3 separate regions of the Homo sapiens genome follow, and regions 1 and 3 are each linked to region 2. The links come from fine-mapping of genetic effects on gene expression. A gene starts in region 2. Each other region holds a variant in brackets. All regions are shown on one strand. Distances are from middle to middle.

Evidence for each region. PIP is the estimated chance that this variant, and not a neighbour inherited with it, causes the effect.
Region 1: its variant is the best candidate, but not a certain one, in a credible set for the expression of MAPK9 in monocytes after interferon gamma (Fairfax 2014, PIP 0.67).
Region 3: its variant is the best candidate, but not a certain one, in a credible set for the expression of MAPK9 in monocytes (TOPMed, PIP 0.70).

What each region holds. Positions count from the first base shown.
Region 1 is chr5:180,268,834-180,271,589 of GRCh38, forward strand. It overlaps MAPK9 (mitogen-activated protein kinase 9), which reads right to left. Exons shown (of 12, transcript NM_002752.5): 3 at 447-576. Among named protein-coding and RNA genes, the nearest start is that of MAPK9, 22 kb to the right of the region's middle. The variant A/G (reference allele first, on the strand shown) is at 1,164.
Region 2 is chr5:180,291,011-180,293,766 of GRCh38, forward strand. It overlaps MAPK9 (mitogen-activated protein kinase 9), which reads right to left and starts at 1,073. Exons shown (of 12, transcript NM_002752.5): 1 at 838-1,073. It overlaps LOC124901151 (a long non-coding RNA gene), which reads left to right and starts at 1,222. Exons shown (of 2, transcript XR_007059085.1): 1 at 1,222-1,290. RefSeq lists silencers at 589-778, 909-1,278, 1,289-1,628 and an enhancer at 1,551-2,193.
Region 3 is chr5:180,312,393-180,315,148 of GRCh38, forward strand. GFPT2 (glutamine-fructose-6-phosphate transaminase 2) reads right to left here. Exons shown (of 19, transcript NM_005110.4): 14 at 1,415-1,572; 15 at 38-152. Among named protein-coding and RNA genes, the nearest start is that of MAPK9, 22 kb to the left of the region's middle. RefSeq lists an enhancer at 1,357-1,651. The variant T/C (reference allele first, on the strand shown) is at 1,435.

The DNA of each region.
Region 1 (2,756 bases), 22 kb before region 2:
AAAGAATGTTATCAATAAAAAATAGGCCGGGCATGGTGGCTCACGCCTGTAATCCCAGCACTTTGGAAGGCCAAGGCAGGTGGATCATGGGGCCAGGAGATCAAGACCATCCTGACTAACATGGTGAAACCCCATCTCTACTAAAAATACAAAAAATTAGCCGGGCGTGGTGGCAGGCGCCTGTAGTCCCAGCTACTTGGGAGGCTGAGGTAAGAGAATGGCATGAACCCGGGAGGTGGAGCTTGCAGAGAGCCGAGACTGCGCCACTGCATTCCAGCCTGGGCGACAAAAAAACAAAAAAACAAAAAACAAAAAACCAATGTTAATAGCCATTTTTATCCTTAGCTTATCCTAGGTCTGAACTCAATGTATCTCCAGAAAACCCTGAAGATTACCACATTATTGACAATATGGAAGCACACAGACAAAATACATACATAACTTACATTTTTATGATTGACACATTTTAAGAGGACAAGTTCACGATAAGCTCTCTTTGCATGAGTTTGGTTCTGAAAAGGACGGCTTAGTTTCTTGACTGCAACATTTATCCCAAGAACTGTATCAAATGCAGCACTAGAATTAGGAAATATAATGCACAATCCATTAGAACGGTTTTGGAAAATACAGCAATGCCAGAATATACATTGAATATATCATCTTTTTAATAAGTAACAAGGAAAAATCTGCTTATTTCATTCAAGGTACTTGCACATATGAAGAGCAGAGTGAGTTGTCTAAGACTACAGCATGTACTAACTCCTTTGCAGAGGCACATTTCAGCCACAGTTAAGATGGGGTTCAGCAATCCTTCACACACCAAGGTTTCATAGTTTAGATTACATTCAAAACCAGGTAATTTAATATAGAGTGCATAAAACCAGTCAAGAAATGAAATCTTCAGTTTAAACATGACAAGAAGTTGGAAACAAAGTCACTGTTTCCTGTCTTAAAATGTGTATATTTTGGAATATCACAGTAGAGGAAATGGCTGAATTCATGAGGAGAATAAATCTAAATTTTGAATCACTGTGTTTTTTTCACAAATAACAGTATCTAAAAAGAAAAGAAGCCAAAATTTCAGCTCATGGTAAATGTTCAAGATACAAAATCTCTAACGTAAGCAACTGCTATATAAAGTTCTTTTAGAACTATCTCCTCCT[A/G]CTACTATAGTAAGAATAAAATCTACAGGCTGTGTTTCCAGCATCTCGTTTCCTGTTGAAATTCTGTTCATTTTCCTCCAGAAAATAGACATGAAGAATCAAGTAGCCTGATTACACATTTTTAGGTTTCAAACTGGTACTAAATAGTATCATTTGTATTATCACCTCTGGGCTACTCATGAGGGCTAACAGCTACTAAAGGCCACCTGAGAACCTAAGCACTGATTTAAATACTGTTTCTATTTCTTTATTCCATTGAGTTTATAACATTGTTTACATTTATTCTCTTCTATTAATGCTTTTGCCAAACTCGAACCTAATTCAATCTGTTTTAAAGTTGAAGGCTATCTGTTGTAGCATTTGGTTAAGAAGCTACCTTACTTTAATTCAGTTCATATTATGTGTCTGTCTATATACATATGTAAATCCACAGGTTCATATGCAAATTGCACCATTTATATGAATTATAAAATGAGAAGGATATATCCACTTGTGAAACAAGTCATTGACATACATGTAGCCATGTATGTATTTATACCTATATACTTCTCAGACTCAAGAATTTGAAAATAGGCCAGGTGTGGTGGCTTATGCCTGTATTCCCAGCACTTTGGGAGGCCAAGGCAGGCAGATCGCTTGAGCCCAGGAGTTTGAGACCAGCCTGGGCAATACAGTGAAACCTTGTCTGTACAAAAAATACAAAGATTAGCTGAGTGTGGTGGTGCATGTCTGTAGACCCAGTTACTCAGGGGACTGAGGTGGGAGGACTGCTTGAGCCGGGGGTCGAGACTGCAGTGAGCACTGATCCCTCCACTGCACCCCAGCCTGGGTGACAGACTGAGACCCTGTTGCCCAGGGTCTCAAAAAAAAAAAAAAAGAAAAAGAAAAAGAAAAAAAGAATTTGAAAACAGACACACTTTTTTGGTATCAAAAGTTTTTGTCCAAAATTTCAGTTAGATAGGAGGAATAAGGTCAGGAGGTCTACTGTGAGATATGGTGACTGCAGTTAATAACAATGTATTGTATTCTTGAAAATTGATGAGAGTAGATTTGTTCTCATCAGAAACTTTTAAAAAGTATGTGAGGTAATGCATATGTTAATTCGCTCAATTTAGCTAGTCCATAATGTATACATATTTCAGAACAATATGCTGGACATGATAAATATATACAATTTTTATTTGTCATTTTAAAAAAGTTTTTGGCTAAAACAAGGCAAATGGACCAAGTCTAAGCATCTAAGTGGGCATAAGCTTCCCCACTTGTAGCTCAGCTCCATGAGGAACTACCTTCAGTTATTCCTGGTTGTGGTTATTGCGGTCACTCAAAGAATACATTGTTATCACTATCTCTTCATTTATCAGCTTTAGAAATGATTCACCTACTCCCCATTACGAAAACTGAGTATTTGGCCACTTCCTTGAAATCCCCAATCGCCAACACCTCCTATTTTTTTTGTTGTTCTGCTTTTTGGGTTTTCCCTGGTTACGTCTTTAAGTAACACCCCTAATCTTCACGCTTCTTCAACTCTGAAGGGAACGTCTTGACTTCTGCTTACGTAAAATGAGACTGTTCCATCCCTTTCTCCTCCAT
Region 2 (2,756 bases):
AAAGAGGGTGGTCGAGGAGGGCCTCACCCAAAACGAGACATCTGACCAGAGGAAGGAGCAGAAAGAGCTACTTGTGCCAAGATCACGGAGACAACTCCAAAGACGGGGAAACAGCAAATGCAAAGGTCCTGGGGCAAATGCGGGCTGGCATGTTCAAGGCGGGCGAGATGAGTGGGACGGGGCAGCAGTCTTCTGGGGGAGGGGCGCGGTGGTAAGGGATTCGGGCTGGGTCCCCTCTGGCACTGCTGGACACCGAGTGTGCAATGACAAGGCAAGAGAGGAGTGCGCGGGGAGGCGGGAGGCTGGGCGGGTGGGGAGGGGGTTCCTACACCACTCACACCAGCACGGGCCAGCACCCTGCCCAGTCTTCCACAGATGCACACCGGGGTCCTGCCCAGGCGTCTGCATACATTCACACAGCCTGACAACAACCCTGTCCAGAAGAGACATTTCCCCACCTTCCCGAAGGCAAAACCGCGGCAGAGCGAGGGTCAGTGCCTTGGCCAAGGTCGCGGGGACGCGACCCCGGGCCCCTGGGCACCCGGCGCAGGAGTGCAGCTGTCTGCCCCACCTCCGGGAGGGATGGCGCCCGCAGACCCCACGGGCAGGTCGGCCGGGCCAGGCCGGTGAGCAGGCCCGCAGCCCGGGGCTGCTGACAGCCGGGCGGAAGGGGGCGCCTGCGGCATCCCCCAGCACAGGGGCGACGGCTGCGGCTGCCAGGGCCCCGCAGCCCCCGGCCCGCCCCGAAGCCCCCGGCCGCGCGGTTCCCTCACCGCCCCTCCCCGCGGGCCCGGCCCGAGCAGCCGCCGCCAGGCCTAGCCCGCCCGCCGGGCTCACCTCGCCTCCCCGCCGCCGCGCCACGGGGAGAGGGCGGGCGGGCGGACTGGCGGCGCTGCGTGCTAGTCACTCCTGGCTCCGCGGCCCCGGCTCCGCCGCCGGCCCGCCCCGCTCCGCTCCGCCCCGCCGCCGCCGCCGCCGCCGCCGCCGCAGTGGGTGTGAGGGGCGCCGGGGCGCTGCGACCCTTCCGGTCCCGCTCCCTTCTCCGCCGCTGCCGCCGCCGCGGCGCCCGGTCTGACAGACCCTCGCGCCGACCAATCAGCGCGCGGAGAGCGGAGCAGGCGCGGCCAATGGCGCCTGGGGGGCGGGCCGATGGAGGGTGGCGCGGGCGGGGTCGGGGGCCGGGTCGGGCGCCCGAGGTCCTGGGCCGGGGTTCCGCGGGTTCTTCGCCCCCGGGCCTTTCAGTGGCGCGGGCCGAGTGGCCATGGCGCTCGGGTGCGCGCAGTGCACGCGGTGAGCTGGAGACGCAGGCATTGCGCGGCCCACCGGCTGAGCCCGCTCTCCCTGCGAGGGGGGCGCAGCTCGGTGGAGAGGGTGGCCCGGAGGACCGGGAACCGGGCTGGAGGCGCGCGGGGCTCACACCGCGGGGTCCGCGGGGAGCCGGGCCTCGGGCTGCAGGTGCAGGCTTGTGGCGGTGAGGCGACTGGAGCGGCACGGGAGCCCGCCCGTTTCGGGGAGAGCCCGGGGCGATCGCGGGGGGAGGCCGGCCTGGCGTCCGGGAGCCCGGCGTGCTAGGGCCCGGTAGGCGGGGCGGGCCTCGCACTCGGTTGCTCGCTGCGGCGCCGGAGGAACGGGTCTATGGGGGTGTGGGTGAGGCCAGAAGCCGGGTCGAAGAGGGGGAGGGGGTGCGAAGAGATGGCGGTGTGTAGACAGGTGACCCGGTGGGTCGGTGACGCAGGAGGAGACTGCGCTTGGTGGCGGGATCACTTAGTTGACAACATCTAAAAATTAGGAGGTGCGGCAGGGCGCGGTGGCTCACGCCTGTAATCCTAGAACTTTGGGAGGTCGTGGCGGGTGGACTACCTGAGGTGAGGAGTTCGAGACCAGCCTGGCTAACCTGGTGAAACCCCGTCTCTATTAAAAATACGAAGCAATGAGCTGGGCGTGGTGGCGGGCGCCTGTAATCCCAGCTACTCGGGAGGCTGAGGCAGGAGAATCACTTAAACCTGGGAGGCGGAGGTTGCAGTGAGCCGGGATTGCGCCATTGCACTCCAGCCTGGGTGACAGAGTGAGACTCTCTCAAAAAAAAAAAAAAAAAAAAAAAAAAAAAAAAAAAAAAAAAGGGAGGTGCTCAGTCAAGCCTCTGAGAGGAGTGGGGGGCGGGGCGAGGAGTCTCTTGCTCAGAGCCCCCTAGGGACTGGGACCCGTTGACTCTGAGCTGCTTTTGAGGCTGGATCAGGTACCAGCGGCCTGGGGGTCGTACAGGATGGGAGAGGCCGGGGCTTGGGATGTTGCCAGATCTACGTTGAAAAGTGAAGCAGGAAGAGAGGCACTGAGGCTGGGCACATGGGGAAAACCGTGGAGAGCCGGCCTTTGGGGACTAGAAGAGTGGGAACAATGGTTGACAAATGGTGAGTGTGGTGTAGAACAGCAGTAACACAATACCAGGATCCACAGAGTGGCCAGGGCCAGAGTGGGGAGAAGGAACAGGACTCTGCAGATGGGGAGGGTAAGGGGCTGGGTGGCGTGAAGGGTGGTTGCAGAATTTGGGGAGGGCAGCTAGCCTGTGACCCAGGTTCCAAGGGCACTGAGGTCTGGGCCAGGCCGCTTGGAGGCACCAGAGCCTCAGAGGAGGGGTGGGGTAGAGGAACGGATCCAGCATGGTGTCCCCCTTGGCCACCAGAGGGAGTTTTCTAAATTTGAGCATGGCTCATCGCTGCTTGAAATTCTACGTCACAGTGTGGCCTGCATTGAGGAGG
Region 3 (2,756 bases), 21 kb after region 2:
GATCTGAAAACATGGAAAGCTGAATTCTAGAACATACCAGGTAAAGATCTCAAGCCACGGATGATCTCTTGCCTCCTGTTTTGTAGTGAAATTCGGTCTTCAGACATCATCAAACCAAACATCACCAGAGAGATGAACTGACTGGTATAAGCCTGTGCACAAAGAAGGAGGTGGCAGGGACCTTATTTTCACTTTTTAAATCAACTTTTATTTTTGAGACAGGGTCTACTCTGTTGCTCACGCCTGAGTGCAGTGGCGAGATCACGGCTCACTGCAGCCTCAACCTCCTCAAGTGATTCTCCCACCTCAGCCTCCCGAGTAACTGGGACTACAGGTGCCACCACCCTGCCCAGTTAATTTTTAGGTTTTATTTATCTATTTATTTATTTCTATTTTGTTTTTGAGACAAAGTCTTGCTGTGTCACCCAGGCTGGAGTGCAGTGGCTCGATCTCGGCTCACTGCAACCTCCACCTACCAGGTTCAAGCGATTCTCCTGCCTCAGCCTCCCGAGTAGCTGGGATTACAGGCACCCGCCACCACACCCGACTAATTTTTGTGTTTTTAGTAGAGACGGGGTTTCACCGTGTTAGCCAGGATGGTCTCAAACCCCTGACCTCAGGTGATCCCCCTGCCTCGGCCTCCCAAAGTGCTGGGATTACAGGCCTGAGTCTCCGCACCTGGCCTAAGTTTTATTTTTGAAGGGACGGGGTTGCCCGGGGCGGTCTGGAACTCCTGGGTTCAAGGGATGCTCCCGCCTCAGCCTCCCACAGTGCTGGGATTCCAGGGGGGAGCCCCGTGCCAGCCCTAAAGGACTTTAAAATAAGCATCTCCAAGGTGCTCAAAGAGCCACAGGACAACATGGACGAAACACAGGAACGTGGCATGGGAATAAAATGAGACTAAATGAAGATATGGGGGCCGGGCACGGGGGCTCACGCCTGTAATCCCAGCACTTTGGGAGGCCGAGGCGGGCGGATCACGAGGTCAGGAGATCGAGACCATCCCGGCTAACACGGTGAAACCCCGTCTCTACTAAAAATACAAAAAATGAGCCGGGTGTGGGGCGGGTGCCTGTAGTCCCAGCTACTCGGGAGGCTGAGGCAGGAGAATGGCGTGAACCCGGGAGGCGGAGCTTGCAGTGAGCCGAGATCGCGCCCCTGCACTCCAGCCTGGGCGACAGAGTGAGACTCCGTCTCAAAAAAAATAAATAAATAAAATAAAAATAAAAATAAAAAAAATGAAGATACGGGAATCCAAGAGGGGAGGGGAAAGGAAAGGAGCGGAGAGAAGGGGTGAGGCGGGAAGGGGAAAGAAAGGCGGTGGCGCGGGCAGAGCAGGCCGGAGGAGGGCGGCCTCTGGTGCACCTGCCTCCGCCAGGCTCTCCCTGGGACGGGCGCCCGTGGCTCCTCCTACCTTGGTGCTGGCCACGCCGA[T/C]CTCCGGCCCTGCGTTGATGTGGACGCCGCAGTCGGTCTCGCGAGAGATGGAGCTGCCCACGGTGTTGGTGACGCCCACGGTGAGAGCGCCGCGGTCCTTACAGTAGCGCAGCGCCAGGAGGGTGTCCGCGGTCTCGCCTGCCGCCCAGGGGCCCTCTCAGTGCCGCGCTCCGCCAGCCTCGGCCCCACCCCAAACCCCTTCCTCCTTCACCGCCGGCTCTTACAGGGAAATCGGCGCCCGAGACACAGCCAGCGGGTGTTCAGAAAGGAAAACGCTCGCTCAACAGCCTTTTCGGTTGATTCTTACATTCAAGGTGTGTTACTATTTGTGGCAAGCATCTTTTCATTTAAATCTCGTGACAACCCCGTGAGGACCATCGTCCCCATTTTCCTCTTGAGGATGAGGGCTCAGAGACAGGAGGAAACCGGTGCTCTGATCAAAGCCATACAGCTGGTGACAGGTGGGCTTGGCTCCCAGCGCCCTCTCTGCAACTGAATAAGCTGCCTTATTCAGAACGTGCTGAGATGGAACAGATTTAACATCTGACAAGCAGGAATGTCCCCAAGTGGTGTTTCTCAGCTAGATCCTGTTTGAAAGGACACTTCTTGCAAGCCTCTCAGTGTGGACTCAAATTGTTTTTAGAATAAAGCTAAACAGCTTCATGCATAAACCAGCACAAGCTCCCTATGTTTGTGAGTCCTAAAGCACTCAAATTAAATTCAGCATAAGCCAGACTATAAAATCAAAACTGTTGAAATCCTCATGAGTCGGGAGGCTGTTCTGTTTGCAGGGCCACTGCTCTTGGCTGTGTCTGTCCCAGCTTTGCAGGGCAGGCAGGTGCCGCCCGGTGCTAGGTGGCCCAATTCTCCTCTGCTTTTCTTTCTTCAGAGCCCTGGGTTATGGCACTGGAGTGTCACGGGGTACTGCGGTGAGGGTGCGGGAAAGGGGGTTCTAACTTCTGTCACCCGCGCCCTAGGGTTCGATAGTGTTTTTTCAATCTCATTAAAGGGCTGACTTCTATACACACAGAGATTCGGAAGCTGCCACTGCATTATTTTCATATTAGCTCCACCTCTGTTCTTTTGTTAATGTCTCCCACCAATTTATAAAATAGTCTGAGGCTCTGGTGGGATCAGAAACCCAAAGGTGAACACGGCAGCAGCTCCTGCGTCATAAGGTGGTGGGCCGGATGGTCGGTGTATCTGTACTGGTTTTTCTTCACTTGTCAACAAAATGGAAATGGTATTTAAAATGGAAAATGGCAGGAGTACTAAAAGTCCTAATAGATGATAGGGCATTACAATCAGTATTTTAGTTGTGG